5 linked regions of the Homo sapiens genome follow. The protein of the gene in region 3 purifies or fractionates together with the protein of the main gene of each other region. This does not show direct contact. Each region holds a gene or a part of one and is shown on either strand. Other genes may lie near its edges. The genes, in order: ACVR2B, ACVR1, RGMB, BMPR1A and ACVR2A.

Region 1 (3,521 bases), on a different chromosome or scaffold from region 3:
TGCTGCTGCCTTCTTCTGACTCTATTACATTGCTCAGTGATGTCTCTGACTAAGGCAGTGGTAGGTACTGGAAATCAATGGATAAAGCAGGCTGGGATTGTTCAAGGGTCAGCCATGTCTCTTCCCGGCCCAGGACCAATAATGGCTTCCCGCCTTCGGACAGCCCCATGCTTTCCCCTGGTTATTCTAGGCTTGCTGTACACATGCATGTGCCTTTTTCAGATTCTTTCTGGGACTGGCAGCTCCAACTGGGTGTTTTCATTCATGGACGCATGACCTCTGGAAGCGGGTGTGGAAAGGAAGCCTGTCCCACTGGGCAAATGTGAGGCCCTCTTCCCAGGGGAATGTTGTCTGGATGGGTCTGACCTGCTGGACAATGGGCCTTCTCCCTGGCCAGTTTCTGGGCTGGAGCTGAGGTGTTTTGTGAGGCGAGCTCATGCTCTTTGCATGTGTTCCTCTGCCGACTATTTCAGTTCCACTCTGACAACCAAGGAGGCTAAAATTAGTTCTGGAGAAGGAAAAGGAAGGCTGGTTGGAAACCCAAGCCCTTGGCTGGAGAATGGAGGAGGCTGCTTCCCAGGTTTGTGCCTGAGCATTTCGGAGGATGGGATGAGACCAGCTGTTATCCGTCCATCTGAGGAGAAGGAGGGGTCCCTGTGGCCTCCCAGACTTGAACCAATTAAAACAGGAGACTAACTTGGAAGCTGACTCTCTCGAGTGTTGATGCCAGGATATTTTTTCCTTCTGGCTTGTGCAGTGGCGCACAGTGTTTTCAGGTATGAGGACAATGCCTTTTAATGAATGTCCAGTGCCATTGACAACCCTCCTCCCCCTCCCCTCCAACTGGATTATGTGTCCGTTGATTTAGAAAGCATGCATGAGTTTTCCCAGCCTGGGCTGGCAACCATGGTTTAAGAACTCTTATTTTATGCACTTTTTGGGAATTTCCTTCTCACTGAGGTTTGATATTGGGTTAGAGGGGAGTCCTGTGGCCCAGGGCTCACACAAGAGGTCCCGCTTCTCTGTGTAGTGAGGGCATAGTGAATCAAGGCTCATCTGCTCTGGGCCTTAGAAACCAGAGGAGCAGAAGGGTTAGAGAGATGAATTCTGGTTTCTTTTCCCACCTGGCTGGCTCCTTCTGTGAACCTTCTGGCTGAGGGTGAGACCTACAGGGCTGTGTGGGAGTAGAAGGAGGGCCAGGGCAATGTAGTCCTATCTCCCCTGCCCTGAAACCTCGCATCCAAACCTCCCATCACTGAGAGGTTAGCCACCCTGGGGTATAGTTGGGGGAGTAGAAGTCACTTCCCCCATAACTAATTTTCCCATTTAAAAAAAATTTATTACTTTTTAAACAAGTAATATACCTACATTATATTGCAGAAATTTAGATGTTACAGATAATACTAGGGTCTCCTTTTATCACTTCTGTTCCCCATCCGAGGCCCCCTCCAAAGGTAATCCTTTTAAGATTGAGATGTATTCTTCCAGACATTTTTACTTGTGCATCTATAGAAATACTTATAGAAATAGAGAGGCTTTTGGCCGGGCGTGGTGGCTCATGCCTGTAATCCCAGCACTTTGGGAGGCCAAGGTGGGCGGATCACCTGAGGTCAGGAGTTCAAGACCAGCCTGACCAACATGGAGAAACCCCGTCTCTACTAAAAATACAAAAAATTAGCCCGGCGTGGTGGTGGGTCCCTGTAGTCCCAGCTACTCAAGAGGCTGAGGCAGGAGAATGGCGTGAACCCGGGAGGCGGAGCTTGCAGTGAGCCAAGATAGCACCACTGCACTCCAGCCTGGGCAACAGAGCGAGACTCCATCTCAAAATAAATAAATAAATAAACAAACAAATAAATAAATAAATAAATAGGCTTTTTTCCACCTAAAATGGTATTCAAGCATTTAATTGAAGTATAAAACATATACAGAAGAATGTACAAGTAATTACCATAAGTAACAGCTAAGAAGCATTTTCACAAATTGAATACACTGGTTTAGTCAGCATCCAAGTCAAGAATCAGAAATTTTCCAGCCCCCCATCCCCAGCAAGCCCTGTTTTGTTCCATTTCAGTCTCTGCCCACACCCACTAAGGTTAACTACTATTCTAACTTCTAACAGCATAAAATAGTTTCATCTGTTTCTGTGCTTCATATGAATAGAACCTTACAGAATAAACTGCTTTGTGTCCATCTTTTCCTCACCATGTTTGTGACTTTAAGCTATGTTGGATGTCATGGCTTTTTAAACTCGGAGATTTGCTTTGGCAAACTTTCTGATACATATGGATCTACTTTGATCTTTTTAATAACTACGTAATATTCTAAAGTTTAAATATAGACTACATTTTACCTAGTTTCTTACTGATGGACTTTGTGATTGTATAGAATGTATGCAGACTGTTTCTCAAGAGTAGATGAGAAAATAACATCTGGATCATAAGCACGTATGTTATTGGTTTTAATAGATACTGAAAAATGGTTATACCATTTTATTTATTTATTTTTTGAGGCTACCCAAGTGATGGCAGTGAGGGTAGAAGCTGGGTGATATGGCAGTTGGCTCTCTGCGGTAATCTGTGAACATCCTTCCTACCTCCACACCCCAACCCCTGCTGAAATGCTAGGTTACAGAGTTTAGAAATAGCCTGGTTTCATGAAGGGTGCGCGGACATGGGAAGGGCTCACTTCCACTGGCTTAATGTATGAGGAGACCTGGAGATAACCTCTCGTGCCTGTGTCTCCTACCTTGTGCCTGAGTCTCCTGGGTACTGTGCTGATGAGGGAGGTAGCACTGGACTAGCCAGGATGTGCTGGTCTGGGTTTGGGATGGAAGTGCATATGTATGTTCACTTACCAGGCTCTATGCTGCGTGCAGACTCTGAAGAGACTAAGGCACTTGTTGAAGGTCGCTGAAGAGCTCTGGGTAACAGCACTACTGGCAAGCCCACTGCATTTGACAAAATCTGAGTGTGACAAATTCTGATTTCATATGTCGTGATAATGACGTTGGGGGTATTGGAGAAACCTGTAGAAAAACTATTTTAGAGTCTGGTGAGAAGCTTTTCATGACAGAAGGAGCTCTGGTGAGTTTCTGTTCCTGGCTGAGTGTATGCCTTGTTCCCTGTATAAGTCTCTGCCACAGTTGGCAGAAGACTTAGGGAAGATAGTTTGGGATGACTTGTTCACCAAAGCTGTTGCTTCCCAGTCTTGTTCTTCAGCTTGCTGCCTACTCTTTACTGTTATGTTGGGATTCTTTATGTAAGTCCACTTGTCAGGCCCTGCTAATGGATTTAGATGACACTCAAGTTTGTGGAACTGTTTCTAGTACAAATGATACTCCAATCAGCTTTCCCACATTATACATATGATGTGCGCTGTTTGTGTCTTAGTCTGCTCAGGTTGCCATAATGGAATACCATAGATTGGGTGGCTTAAACAACTGAAATTTCTTTTCTTACAATTCTGGGGACTGGAAGTTAAAGATGAAGGTGCTGTCAGGATTCGTTTCCAGTGATTCTTCT
Region 2 (3,521 bases), on a different chromosome or scaffold from region 3:
CATGCTCTTTCAATGCTTATCCTAAAATCTTTCGTCTCCTACTTGGGAAACATTGTAATTTCTCAATGTAAAAGCAAAGACTTTAAAGGGATTCAAAGGAAATAAATTTTCCTAACATGTCAAATCCCTTATGTTTAAAAACAAACAAAAATAAACTTTGTTATTTACATAACTAAAGCTATTTTTGTCTAAACCTTTATCAGGCTAACAATAATTGCAATAATATAAATATCATATAAACCATGTTTAATCAAGTAGAGGGCCCTGAATTCTCATTAGCACAATTATTTAGCCAATATTCTAGGAATCCAGGAAGAACATGGTTTTATATAAAATGCCACTATAAATGAAAATACTCTTATTTATAATGCAACTAAAGCTACACTGAGTACTACTCTAACACCATAAGAATGAGCTATCCTAACAGGGAAAAGAGTGAATCAGTTCGGGGATTATTTTCCTATTTCTTAACTTGATTCTTTTGCCTTGGTTACAGAATGATTTTAGAGACCACTTTTAAGATAAACTAATTCTATAGAGTATTTATTGTGCACCTACTTTATGTGAAGGTTAGTGAAACCAAAATGCAACAGTACTGGTTACTTCTGAGGTGGGGTGTGGCAGGGACTGACTGAATGAGCCTGAGGTAACTGTCAAGAGTAATGGGAAACTCTGTATCTCGACAGGGATTTGGGTTTTACAACATTTGTCAAAACTCTTAAGATTTGTATATCTCACAGTATATAAATTTTACCTGAAAAAAAGAAAAAGCAAATAATGCATTCTTGTCAATGATATACTAGTGTACATGCTGAAATCATCAGAAGAAAGAATTCCTTTGTCTGCAATTTACTTTCAACTCTATCAAAGGTTGATATGGACTGATGGATGGGGAGATGAATAGATGAATAAATACATAATAATGCTTAAGGATAGTAAAATGTTAATGTGAGAATCTATGTGGTGGGTATAAAGGTGTTCATTGTAAATGTTCAACTTTTCTGCATGTTTGAAATTTTGCATAACATGTTGTGGGGGAGAGATGCAACTCACCTAACCATTGAAACAAAAATAAAACTGGTGAGGAAAAAAATATTTTTAGAAATTTACCCAAATCTGCTATGCAACACTGTCCATTCTTCTTAACCAGAATATTTTTGCTCTTTAAATCTCGATGGGCAATGGCTGGTTTCCCTTGGGTCCCAAATATCTCTATGTGCAAATGTGCAAGACCACTAGCTATGGACAGCACTATTCGAAGGCAGCTAACTGTATCCAGAGTAGTAAGCTGAAGATAGTCGTACAACGATCCCATTTCATGATAATGTGTAATTAACCACAGCTGGGTACTGGAGTGTCTTGATGTCATGTCTGAAGCAATGAAACCTGGAGAGAGCAAGAAAAAAATTAATATACATGAGGATTCCACATTATAACTTAAAGTATTTAGAAATAGCGACCTACACAGTAAATGTCATCTGTAACAAAAAGTAATTAAACTGACCAATTGCCCTAAGAGGAGGTTTACAGAAGCATCAACAGAGAAAAATAATAGCATTTATTCCTTAAAAGGGCACTGCTAATAGGAAAATTTCATATTCATTTCATTATAAGTAATACTTTAAAAGATATTTTACATTCCTTAAGTTTCAGATAGCAATAATATCTTTGTGCTCACCCATAATGATAGTGCCAAGCCCTTCAGCATGTTGATATTTTAGGAACAGACCATTCATCAACCATCCTAAAAGAACATCAAATCTAAAACCTGAGTACTGTATTCTAGTCCTGACTCTGCCTGTGATTTACTTGTCTAATACTGGGCAACTCAGTTAGGCTCCTTAGCCTATATCTGCTCAGATGTAAAATAAAGGGGGCAAGTTTACATTAAATGATTGACTGATTCACGAAATAAAAAAAGAAACCAACCAAATATATGAGTATTTATGATGCTATCTGTCAGTCACACACAGAAAAACCAAGATGATAGTGTTTGCTGGCTAAAGAAGACAGATGTAAAAACGAAAACACTACAATAAAATACGAAAAGTACTATAATATATATCTTCAAAGGGCAACATGAGCCCAGAGCAGGAAATTATAGTAATTCAGACTAGGTGTTACAATAGGCTTCCATTAGGAAGTGGCAACTCAACTGGTCTTGAAGTAAAGTGAGTGACTGACAAATGTGGATGAAGAGGTTGGAGAAGATTTTTCTTTTTCTTTTTCTTTTTTTTTGAGACGAAGTTTCCCTCTTGTTGCCCAGGCTGGAGTGCAATGGCGCGATCTCGGTTCACTGCAACCACCGCCTCCTGGGTTCAAGTGATTCTCCTGCCTCAGCCTCCCGAGTAGCTGGGATTACAGGGGCCCACCATCACGCCGGGCTAATTTTTTATATTTTAAGTAGAGATGAGGTTTCCCCACGTTGGCCACGCTGGTCTCAAACTCCTGACCTTCAGGTGATCCACCTGCCTTGGCCTCCCAAAGTGCTGGGATTACAAGCGTGAGACATCGCGATCAGCCCGGAAGAGATTTTTCTAGACATCTGGAGGGAACTTTTGAGCATGCAGAAGACTGTCTGGAAGTTAGGGGCACTTCCTATCTTATGAAATAAATTGTGACGTGTGCTTGCCTTTTCTGCTACAGAGGTGCCTTTCTAGGATTATTCTCACATATATGAACCACGCTGGTAGACAGTGAAGTTTGGGACTTAAAAAGAGGTGAGAAAAAAAATTTTTTAAGACGGATATGGCTTGAGGAAGAATTAAATGACTTATGAAAATGTAAGAGAAAATACATTAAAATGCTTTATACTTGCATAGTACTTTATATAAAATTTATGTCACTTTCACATATATTTTCTCATGAGATTTTTCCCAACAAGCTGGTAAGAAAGACATCATTATGCTCATTTTACAGATAATAAAGTTGGTGCTGGGAGATGCCAAGGATCACACAGCTATTTAAGTTGCTATCAACTCTGAATTTAGTGCTAGCTGTCCTGATACCTTGCATAGGAAGGCTCTGTGAGCCAAGAAAGGTCCCCTATTTGATCATCATCATCATCGGCAACCACAACAGAGGCAGCTAATAATTATTGAGTACTACATGCCTGGAACTTTATATGCAATCCTCCAAAAACCACATGAAGTAAGTAGATCGCATAATTGATATTAGGTTCCTGTAGGTCTGATTCTAGAACCCAGACTCTTACTGACTATGCCATACTGTCCCCAAACAAACTGATTTCTACTCAGAGAAAAAATAATTTCACATTTTCACCTATGGGACATATGCAAAGCAAACTGAATAATATTTTAGCACCTTCACCCTCTACTTCTTTCTCTCTCTTCCTCTAAGCCTATTCCCATGGCCAGCCCTGAGTCTCCCACTCCTTCCCTGCTCCCCAGTCTGCTTTTCCCCTCGATGCTGCTTCTCTTGGAGCCCTTAGCTGGCCACAATATGCATCAAAATGTGTTCTTGGACATTAGTTATTCTTAATAAAGAAAATGTTTCTGCTT
Region 3 (3,187 bases):
CTCAATATATTATGACAATATATATTTTAAAATTTTGTTATAGACAAAAAATAAAAAACCAAAACAAAAGACAACCCCTACAAAAACACGATAAGGATCAAGCAGGTGAGTCCTAGACTGACAGACAAATCACTGCCTCCACGGGGAGTCCCATTGCCACTGCTGGGGAAAATGTGCCAGCGTTCCTTCCTTGGGTGCAGGGCCTCCACATCCTCCAAGGCACTGTGGGCTGCGGCAGTAAAGTTGGCATCACCAGTGGTGAGCAGGTCGAAGACACAGGACTGGAAATAGATGTCCTTCACTGGCATCTTCTCATGGCATTGAGTGTTGGCAGTCTCCAGTGTGTAGCCAGGCCAGGCCTGCACCAAGGAGGTGCGAGGCAGGCTGTGTCCCAGGATGGCAGACACCTGGCCCTGCCCGTCATCGATGCGTTCACTCAGGGGGCAGCCGTTCACGCACAGCTGCAGGTCCTGGCTCTCCTCGTAGGACATGGCCAGGTCTTCAGGCATACGGATGGCAAGGGTCAGGTAGCGACCCACCTGCCGCACAAACACTGTGGTCCCTATATAGCGGGCGTGCATCTCCACATAGTGGCCACTCTCCCTTTCCACGATACGCAGGCTCTTGGCATCGCTGTCCCCACCACTGGTGGTGCCATCCACAAAGGCGGCCGGCAGGTCATCTGTCACAGCTTGGTAGACTTTCTGATCTGTACACTCATGGTGGGCTTTGAAGATAATAGTGATCTGTGGGAAGGAGCATGTACAAGGTTTAACAGAATGGGAAGGAAGCAGAACGGGGTAACCCTCTGTAGCAAGAGCTCCCCGCCATTTTGAAGCTGAATGGCTTAAGGCGGAATCTCCAAAATGGACCCAACTGCTTGCACCTCAAAAATGGATATCACTTTCAGAAAATATTTTTTAAAGTCCTATATATTTAGAACTAAAGTTTAAATAAATCTGTGCATCAAGACAAAACTTTTTTACTTTCCTAAGAGAAAGAGTGAGCAAGTGAGCAGTGTTGCTATCAGAATATCGGTTTTTTTTTTTTTTTTTTTTTAAGTGACAGGGTCAGCTCTCTTGCCCAGGCTAGAGTGCGGTGGCACATTCATAGCTCACTGCAACGTTCAACTCCTGGGCTCAAAGGACTTTCCCACTTCAGCCTCCTGAGTACACAGGACTAAGGGCATATACCACCATGCGTGGCTGATTTAAAAAACTTTGAAGTGAGGGGGTTGGTGGGGGGCGGGGGGGATGGTGGAGGTCGGGGGTTCCTCACTACGTTGCCCAGGCTGGTCTTGAACTCCTGGCCTCAAGCGATCCTCCCACCATCATCTCCCAAAGTGCTGGGATTACAGGCATGAGCCACTGTGCCAGGCCAGATTATGGGCAATTTTTATTGATAATTTATATCTTGTCTGCTTCCAAAGTGGATGAGTCATGGCATAGTTCTGAGAAAAGAAAAAGGCTCGTTTCTGAGTTATTATGCAGAAACTTTAAAGGGCTTAATTAACAATATACCTAACAGAACTTTGCTTCCTACCAAGATTCTTCATAGGATTAAAAAACTGTATCCCATGACTCACCACTACAAACTTACTCGAAATACAGAGAGAAAGAGTTGAGGAGGGGGCACCCCAGTAACAGCCACCACTCATGTACCCCAGGAAAGATTTCTATTAGTCCCTTAATCAAATGTTTCACATCACTGGCTAATCCCTGCGACAGGGAAATCACCTGGCAAATATAGCTCCTAAGCACTGGCAGAGACTGAATACCCTAAACCTAGTTACAGCAAATGTTTTCCCAAACAGCACCAGAGTCCCTTAACTCCTCAGAAATCTTTTCCCAGCCAACTCTCGATTCTCCAAACTAAGCACATAAATTCATCAAAGAAAAAAAATTACTAATAATACAAAAGCTTCTCTTTTGTAAACCCATGTTCTTTCCTGCAGAATCCTTTAATTAGAACAGTTAGTTAAAAACCTTGCACACCTTCACCTCCAACATATCCAACATCTCTGGTACAGGTGGTGGAGGGAAGACAACTATGATAAGACAGGGGCTGCTGTGTCACACAACATGGAGAAACTATTTCAAAGAAACAAAAAAAGACCAGATTTTGAGAATTGTATCATTGCTAGTAACTGAGGCAACAGGGTTCTCTCTTCCTTCTTGAAAAAACAAAAAGTATCAGGTGACTTCAGTCAGGAGGAAGGTAGACAAGCCAAACACTCTATGAATTACTCGGGATGGAGGAAACCTTCTACCTCCTGCAAGGAAACTAATCGAAACAATAGACCCTTGTGAAAAAGACCAGAAAATGCACCCCCCTCCCCCCGCCTGCCCACCCGAAGTCCTCACCACCACCCTCAAGTTTATGTCTTAAGTTTTTCTCCAACTCGGCCAGCATTTGCTCACACTATTTAATTCCACTTGTTCCCACTGGTGTTACTTGACTGGAATTTTCCAGCCATTTCATTTTACTTCAGCCAGTTATAAAGCCAGATCTGAACCAGCTGCACTGTAGCAACCGGTTAAATTCATATCCGCTGTGTGCAGCTGCAACTAAAAGCCAGACAATGTACTATGAAAATGCTGGGTTTTCTCCCTTCCTAATTACCCTGAGCCACAACTTGATTTCACTACCAGCCTTCTCACATTTCAACACCTTCTTAACAACCCAAAGGAGGTGCATCAGAGATGATTTCAGGAAATTTGTTGTGCATCCAACCATAGGACCTTTCAGAGTGAATGGGGGTTTTGAGCTAGATATCTAACGGGACCATAAAATAGATTTATTTGGTGGCTCTAAAATCCGTTGACAAGTGTTTTTTTTTAAGGCATGCTGGGATCCCTTGGAGATGAAAAGATTGATTCAAGAAAATTTTGCACCTGAAAAAGTTGAAAGTCAACAATACAGATGGCTAAAATAAGAGTTAGTAATAGACTTTTTATATAATCACTATGCTCATTTTCACCTGTAACATCTACTCAAAGATTAAACTCTTCAATGACGGCTAAATAATTCGTCTTTCTAGTCTAACAAACCTAAAATTTAAACCAACTTGATATTATCTGCAAGAACTACTTTTTTGTTCACCTTAGGAAAAACAAAGAGGATTTACTTGTGTTGGGCCAACAAAGCAAAGATAACCGATTCCAAACAAGTTTCCAAAAAGCAAGCA
Region 4 (3,521 bases), on a different chromosome or scaffold from region 3:
AAAAAAGTAAAAGGTTTGAGCTCTTGATGAAAGAAACCCATTAAGACTGGCAAAGGGGTAGTCCATCTCATCAAAAAGCATGGTGTACCCAACCAACTCCAGTTAAAAACTTATAATGTACTTTTTTTTTTTTGAGATGGAGTCTCGCTCTGTCACCCAGGATGGAGTGCAGTGGCGCGATCTCGGCTCACTGCAACCTTCACCTTTTAGATTCAAGTGATTCTCCTGCCTCAGCCTCCCAAGTAGCTGGGATTACAGACACCCGCCACCATGCCCAGCTAATTTTTTTGTATTTTTAGTAGAGATGGGGTTTAGCCACGTTGACCAGGCTGGTCTTGAACTCCTGACCTCAGGTGATCCACCCCACCCCCGGCCTCCCATAATGCTGGGATTACAGGCGTGAGCCACCATGCCCGGCCATAATGTACTTTAAAGTATGAAACAATGTACAATGTATTCTGAAATCATAAACAGGTTATTCAAGTGGCTGGCTGTTTGCAAAAATGGTCATAATAATTACCCTCCCAGTGCACACAGTCGTGGGTAGTCTTGGTCCACAGACTCAGGGCTTAGGCCACATGACTTGCTTTGGATAAAAGAACAACAGCGAACGTGATGCAAGCAAAGACCTGACAAATGTTTGTGGACTGGGGCTTGCCCCCTTCCTGCTGCTTTGGGAACCCTGTGACCAAAAAATAATGGCAGCATGAACTGTCGGCCAAGGGTGTGAACTACACCACCTAGCTCTAGCTAAGCAAGTCCAACAAATGAACTGCCCCACAGACTCACAGAATGAGAAATAATGTTTGTTGCTTCACATCACTAAGTTTTGGGGTGGTTTATTATGCAGCAAAGTCCAAATAACAGTTAAAGATCTTAAAAATCCCATCTATAAGACCCTGCCTGATCTGGCCTGGTCCCATTATTTGCTTTGACCACCCACCCACAAACCTCGTTTGACTTATCTCAACTTTTAGAATTCACTCAAGCTTATTCCTGTCGCTGGGTTTTTTTGAATATCCAGTTCCCTTTACTTAGAGTGCTATTTTCTCACTTAAACACCTTCATAGCACACAAAACCTCTCAGTTGCTGCGCTTAACACAATCATAACTTTATTCTTATTTACATATATATTTGCTTGAATTCCATCCCCTGCTCACAGAATATAAGTATTTATTTGGGACAATATCAGAAGTACTTTAATATTTGTTAAATAAAAGATGTACATGGATTGTTATCTTTCATTTTCAGAAGCATTAGTGATCATTCTAAATTAAAAAGAACATTATGCTCCAAGTTGGAAATGCTTCTAAAATGGACTAGATTTAGTGCAAAGCTAAAGTGACTTTATGTATCATTTATTATAGAATCCTTTTGTAAATTTTGTTCTGTTTTTTTGAGACAGAGTCTCGCTCCGTTGCTCAGGCTGGAGTGCGGCGGCCAATCTCAGCTCACTGCAACTTCTGCCTCCCCAGTTAAAACAATTTCCTGCCTCAGCCTCCCGAGCAGCTGGGATTACAGGCATCTGCCACCACGTCCAGCTAATTTTTGTATTTTTAGTAGAGACAGGGTTTCACCATGTTGGCCAGACTGGTCTCGAACACCTGACCTCAAGTGATCTGCCTGCCTCAGCCTGTAAGTTTTTAAGTCAAGATTATTGAGGTATAATTTATATAAAATGTACCCTTTTTGAGAAAAGTTCAACAAGCCTTGGACAAATCTATATCATGTAATCACCAATACCACAATTAAGATACAGAATATTTTAATAACGTAAAAAAATTCTCACTTTTTGGCCAGGCGTGGTGGCTCACGCCTGTAATCCCAACACTTTGGGAGGCCGAGGCGGGTGGATCACCTGAGGTCAGGAGTTCAAGACCAGCCTGGCCAACATGGTGAAACCCTGTCTCTACTTAAAAAAAAATACAAAAATTAGCTGGGCATGGTGGTGCATGCCTTAATCCCAGCTACTTGGGAGGCTGAGGCAGGAGAATCACTTTTGTGTAGCCTTTTGTGTCTGGCTTCTTTCATGTAGCATAAAGTACTTTTGAAATTCACCCACTGTTGCTGCTACATGTGTTAGAAGTTGTTCCTTTTTACTGATGAGTAATATTCCACTGTATGAATGTACCAGCATTTGTTTATTCATTTAGCAATTCATGAGCTTTGGGGTTGTTTCCAGTTTATGTCTATTATAAATAAAACTGCTATAAACATTCACATTCAGGCCTCTGGTGTGGACAAGTTTTCATATCTCTTGGGTAAATAATTAGCAGAAGGATTGCTTCATTGTACGGAAAGTATGCCCTTAACTTTCCAGGCAATTGTCAAACTATTTTTCAAAATAGCCATACCATTTTGCATTCCAACCAGCAATGTATGAGATTTCTAGTTGATCTACATCTTTGGCACCACTTAATATTATCAGTCTTAGCTATACTAGTGGATGTGCAGTAGTATCTTACTGTGTTTAATTTGTATATCCCTGCTGATGCTGAGCATCTTTTCATGTGCTTGTTTGCCATTCTTATATCTTCTTTGGGGAAGTGTCTGTTCAAATCTTTTGTCCATTTTTTAAAAAAATTGGGTTATCTTATTATTGAGTTGCAAAAGGTCTTTATATATTTTGCACAAAAACCCTGTATCAGATCTGTTTTGCCAATCTGTGACTTGTCTTCTCATTTTCTTGTCTTCTAAATAGCAGAAGTTTTAAATTTTGATAAAGCCTGATTTATCATTAAAAAAATGATTTGTGTTTTTTATGTACTGAAGAAGTCTGCCCAAGGTCAGAATAATTTTTTCAGACATTTTCTTTTAGAGGTTTTATACTTCAACTTTTACATTTAGGTCTATGCTACATTTCAAGTTAATTTGGTATAGAGTGAGGAGGTAAGGACTGAGATTAACTTCTTGGTAAATGGATTCCTGATATTTCCTGCACCATCTGTTAAATGGACTGCCTTTTTCCAATTGAATTACTTGGGCATCTTTTTGTTTTTTTTTTTTTAATCAATTAACCATATTAAGTGCATGTTCCTTTCTAAACTCCATAATCTGTTCCATTCATCAATACATCTATCCTTATGCCAGTACCAAATTGAGATCATTATTGAGTTTTACGGTAAGTCCAGAAATCAGGTAGTGATTCCTCTTTGTTCTTCTACTTCAAAATTGTTTTGGCTCTTCTAGTCCTTTGCATTTCCATATAAATGTTAGAATATACATCAATTGCTATAAAAGTTTGCTCTGATTTTCATTTGGATTCGAATGAAATTACACACCAATTTGAGGAAAACTGAAATCTTAATACTGAGTCCTCAGATTTATAAACATCTCCACTTATTTAGGGCTTTATTAATTTCTTTCAGCAATGTTTTATAATTTTCAGTGTGCAGGTCTTGCATAAATTGTTAGGCTTATTCTAAATATTTCATGGTTTTTGATGCTATTTTAAATACTGTTTTTATAATTACCTAATTGTTTGTTGCTAGAGCCTATAAATTCAATGGTATTTGTACAA
Region 5 (3,521 bases), on a different chromosome or scaffold from region 3:
GTGTAATCCTTTATTGTATATCAGTATGGTGCCTTTGTACATATTACTCTTCCTCTTCTACCTGGCTAACCCCTTTTTGGTTTTAAGACTGAGAAGTATCACCTCTTTAGAAACATTTTCTCTGTCACTCAACCCAGATTGAGTTAGTTGCTTTCTGTTCATCTAACACCTTGTAAATGACCTTGATTTCAGTAATAATTGCAAATGTTTACTTGCCTGTTTCCACTTTAGACTGTGCAAATGTTTACTTTCCTGTTTCTACTCTTTGAAGACATCTTTCCTTTATCCACACACCCATTCCTGGAACCTGGTACACAATAGGTGCTCAGCAAATGTTTATTAAATGAATGAAATGAAATTATTTCACTTCTCTGAGCCACGGTTGTCCTCTTAATGTATTGAAGTGGTGAACTTGGATTAGATGATCCCTGATTTTTTTTCCTACTCTGAAAGCTTTATGGTTCTATAATTTTAAGGTTAGAGTTCAGTGGTGACATTTTATTAAGAAAAGATGATTTTGCTCATTGTTTTGATATCTTTAAGTTATGTTCAAATTTAAATTTTTTTAAATAATTAAAATTAGAATTTGAATTATATAGATTTAGAGGGGATCTTAGGTATCCTCATGTTCCATGGCTTTCATACTTTTTTGACTGTAATACACAATAGGAATTACACATTGCATTATGACTTAGTTCCCATGTAGTAGTAGGGGTGTATGTATATATGTCTGTGTGCATCAGAAATGAAAGTTTCATGAACTGTGTACTCTTAACTATGTGCAGGACACTTATGTATTTTTATATTACATTTCATTTAAAAAACATTGATCGTGACCCATTAATTGATTCATTGACCAACTAATGGATTGTAAATCCCTAAAACCAGTGACCTAGTTCAACAATCCTTATTTCCTGTATTCAGTACTCTCTTAGTGGAAAAGGAAGCTTCATATGTAAATGTGTGCAATGAAAAATATATGCACTGAAAAATATGGTCATTAATTAATCTACAATAGAGACTGTGTGCCTAGGTATAGAATATAGGGAAAACTGGTCTCAAGGGAGAACATGGCTCTTCCCTGATTAAGGTCTTCTCTCTTTTGGACTAGTCGAATAAATTAAGCACACACGAAGGCGCTGAAACAACATTAGATTGTAATTTTGGGGAGTTGGGATTTTTTAATTTAGGAAAGACTTGCTGGACTTAGTACTGGAAAAAAAGTCTTAGACGGAGATTAGGAAGGATGTTAATATGAAGGAAAAGACACAAAATAGCATCAGGAACACAATAGCCATTTGAGAGTAAACTTGACCATGGATGAAGGCAAGGTGGGATGGAGAAATTTTGACTAAATCTGAGGAAGAGATTTGTGTGATGAAGAGAGTTCACAATTGCTTGAAGAAGTAGGACAATCTCAGGGGGTTAACCCTTAAATTCAAATGAAAAGTAATTAAAACTGAGGAGGTAAGAGTGGATGATACATATCCTGATGTATGTCCCAAATACCCCATATGTGGATATAGGACTGAAAAGCAACTCGAAGACTAAGGTAGAATGGTAGCACTACTAAATAAAATTGGTAAGGAAGTAATGAGCCAGAGGAAAATTGAAAGTGCCTTCATAACTAAAAAAGTTTACAGATAGATATAGTTTTAGATGATAAGCATGAATAGAAATAAAGACATGTATTTGGAAAAATAAGAGTACATAATAAAACATGATAACGTAATATTCTCTTAAAGAGGCAGACACTGTATGATGGATATGTCTTCATTGTGAAGTCTAGTTAAAGAATTCTAAACATTAGTGGCTCAATATGTTGTTTATGTTTAAATGATGGTCAAATTTCAGTAATTACTCATACTGGTCATCCAGATTATATTCTTTGAAATCTGTATGAGACCCTACAGTAAAATACACTGTTCTAAGGAAGTAGATTTAGATGCTTTTCTGAATTTGGTATATGGTATTCACGCTTGAAACCTAAACTTTTCAGTGACCATTCTTTTGGACTAGTTTTTTCTTTGGTTGGCTGTAGTCACACTGGGAATTACTTTATTCTCTAATATTGCTAAAGAAAATAAATGTAAAGCAAGAAGAGAGTTACTACATTAGAAGGACTGGCTACACATGTGGGGAGGGGTTGCCTTTCAAAAGATTTTAAAAATGAATCAAGTCTTTACATATTGTAATAAAAGTAAGCCTATTTATAAAGCTTAGAGGGAGGAGTTTTCGTAGTTATGATTATTAACTTTAAAATTTTTATTTTAAAGGAAAAGTTTATTGTTCTTCCCATCTTCATAACTATATGTGATATATCAAGCTTGCTCCAAGGCATTATTTCAAGAGGAAGGGGCATGGACAAGTTATGAGATCTTGGCACATTTCTAAAACTCTGAGATTAACTTTTAAAATTTGTAAACCAAGATGTATTAAATGAATTGATAACTCCACATAACATGGTAGCTGGTCCAGAGTAGATCTTACATATTAGTTTTTAATCTATCTTTAAGTCCCATTTAAAAGGATATGGTATGTAAAACATTAAAAAATATAGATTTGGTTCTTGGGGGATATTTACATTTGCAGGTTACTTATCAGTCAGTTAATGTGAAATAATACTCTGACTAAATGATACAGCCAAAGAACATATCATTATAGAGAGCCAGATAGCTGCCAATAAATATCTAGAATATTCAGATATCGTGGTTCCTTACAAAGAGTTCTTTAAGGTCTCACTGTTTTAGCATGCATTAAAAAGAAACAATGGACTAAATCGTCTCTATTTATTAGTGGGAATTTAAAATATCTTTTTTTCTTGGACAACTTCTCTTAAACTTTTTAAGTGTTTTAAAACTTTTTAGTAGAAGTAAAGTTTTGAAAGATTCTCAAGTCTGTTTTTTAGGTACCAGCTACTTTAAGCTTTGAAAACACAAAGCTATTCAATGACTGTACTTTGAGATCAATATTTTGAATGTGGTATAATATTTTGGACTAAAACTTAAGAGTCTGTCATTCAAATTCCTACTTTCCTACTGACTCTTCTTTGACCTTTGACAGCCATTAAGATTTCACTTTACTCACCCTAAATTAAAGAGGGTGAAATAGGTATTCATTCACTTAACAAATCAATATTGAACTACATGCTAGACACTATGGTAAGTGCTTGGGATACATTATTAAACATGAAGACAGATATGATTATGCCTTTCTGAAGCTTATAGTCATAAAGTAAGTAGTCAAATGAACAACATAATTACAGATTGTCATACGTGCTCGGACAGAAACTAACAGGGTGCCGAGAGGATTACTCTTTATTTGCCTTATCACATATCACATCTGTTTACTTTATCTGCCTATTTCTTTTTTTTTTGAGACTGAGTCTCGCTCTGTTGGCCAGGCTGGAGTGCAGTGGTGCAATCTTGGCTTACCACAACCCCAGCCTTCCAGTTCAAGTGATTCTCCTGCCTCAGCCTCCTGAGTAACTGGGACTACAGGCATGCGCCACCATGCCTGGC

Evidence for each region.
Region 1: the proteins of RGMB (region 3) and ACVR2B purify together in Homo sapiens (affinity purification with western blotting, with the first as the bait; one study listed by BioGRID). This does not show direct contact.
Region 2: the proteins of RGMB (region 3) and ACVR1 purify together in Homo sapiens (affinity purification with western blotting, with the first as the bait; one study listed by BioGRID). This does not show direct contact.
Region 4: the proteins of RGMB (region 3) and BMPR1A purify together in Homo sapiens (affinity purification with western blotting, with the first as the bait; one study listed by BioGRID). This does not show direct contact.
Region 5: the proteins of RGMB (region 3) and ACVR2A purify together in Homo sapiens (affinity purification with western blotting, with the first as the bait; one study listed by BioGRID). This does not show direct contact.

What each region holds. Positions count from the first base shown.
Region 1 is NC_000003.12:38,460,371-38,463,891, forward strand, and holds part of ACVR2B (activin receptor type-2B precursor), read left to right. Parts: intron 1-3,521. UniProt on the Homo sapiens protein: Transmembrane serine/threonine kinase activin type-2 receptor forming an activin receptor complex with activin type-1 serine/threonine kinase receptors (ACVR1, ACVR1B or ACVR1c).
Region 2 is NC_000002.12:157,764,811-157,768,331, forward strand, and holds part of ACVR1 (activin receptor type-1 precursor), read right to left. Parts: intron 1,387-3,521; coding exon 1,111-1,386; intron 1-1,110. UniProt on the Homo sapiens protein: Bone morphogenetic protein (BMP) type I receptor that is involved in a wide variety of biological processes, including bone, heart, cartilage, nervous, and reproductive system development and regulation.
Region 3 is NC_000005.10:98,790,644-98,793,830, reverse strand, and holds part of RGMB (repulsive guidance molecule B isoform 1 precursor), read right to left. Parts: intron 747-3,187; coding exon 78-746; 3' UTR 1-77. UniProt on the Homo sapiens protein: Member of the repulsive guidance molecule (RGM) family that contributes to the patterning of the developing nervous system. Acts as a bone morphogenetic protein (BMP) coreceptor that potentiates BMP signaling. Promotes neuronal adhesion.
Region 4 is NC_000010.11:86,913,605-86,917,125, reverse strand, and holds part of BMPR1A (bone morphogenetic protein receptor type-1A isoform 3 precursor), read right to left. Parts: intron 1-3,521. UniProt on the Homo sapiens protein: On ligand binding, forms a receptor complex consisting of two type II and two type I transmembrane serine/threonine kinases.
Region 5 is NC_000002.12:147,851,524-147,855,044, forward strand, and holds part of ACVR2A (activin receptor type-2A isoform 1 precursor), read left to right. Parts: intron 1-3,521. UniProt on the Homo sapiens protein: On ligand binding, forms a receptor complex consisting of two type II and two type I transmembrane serine/threonine kinases.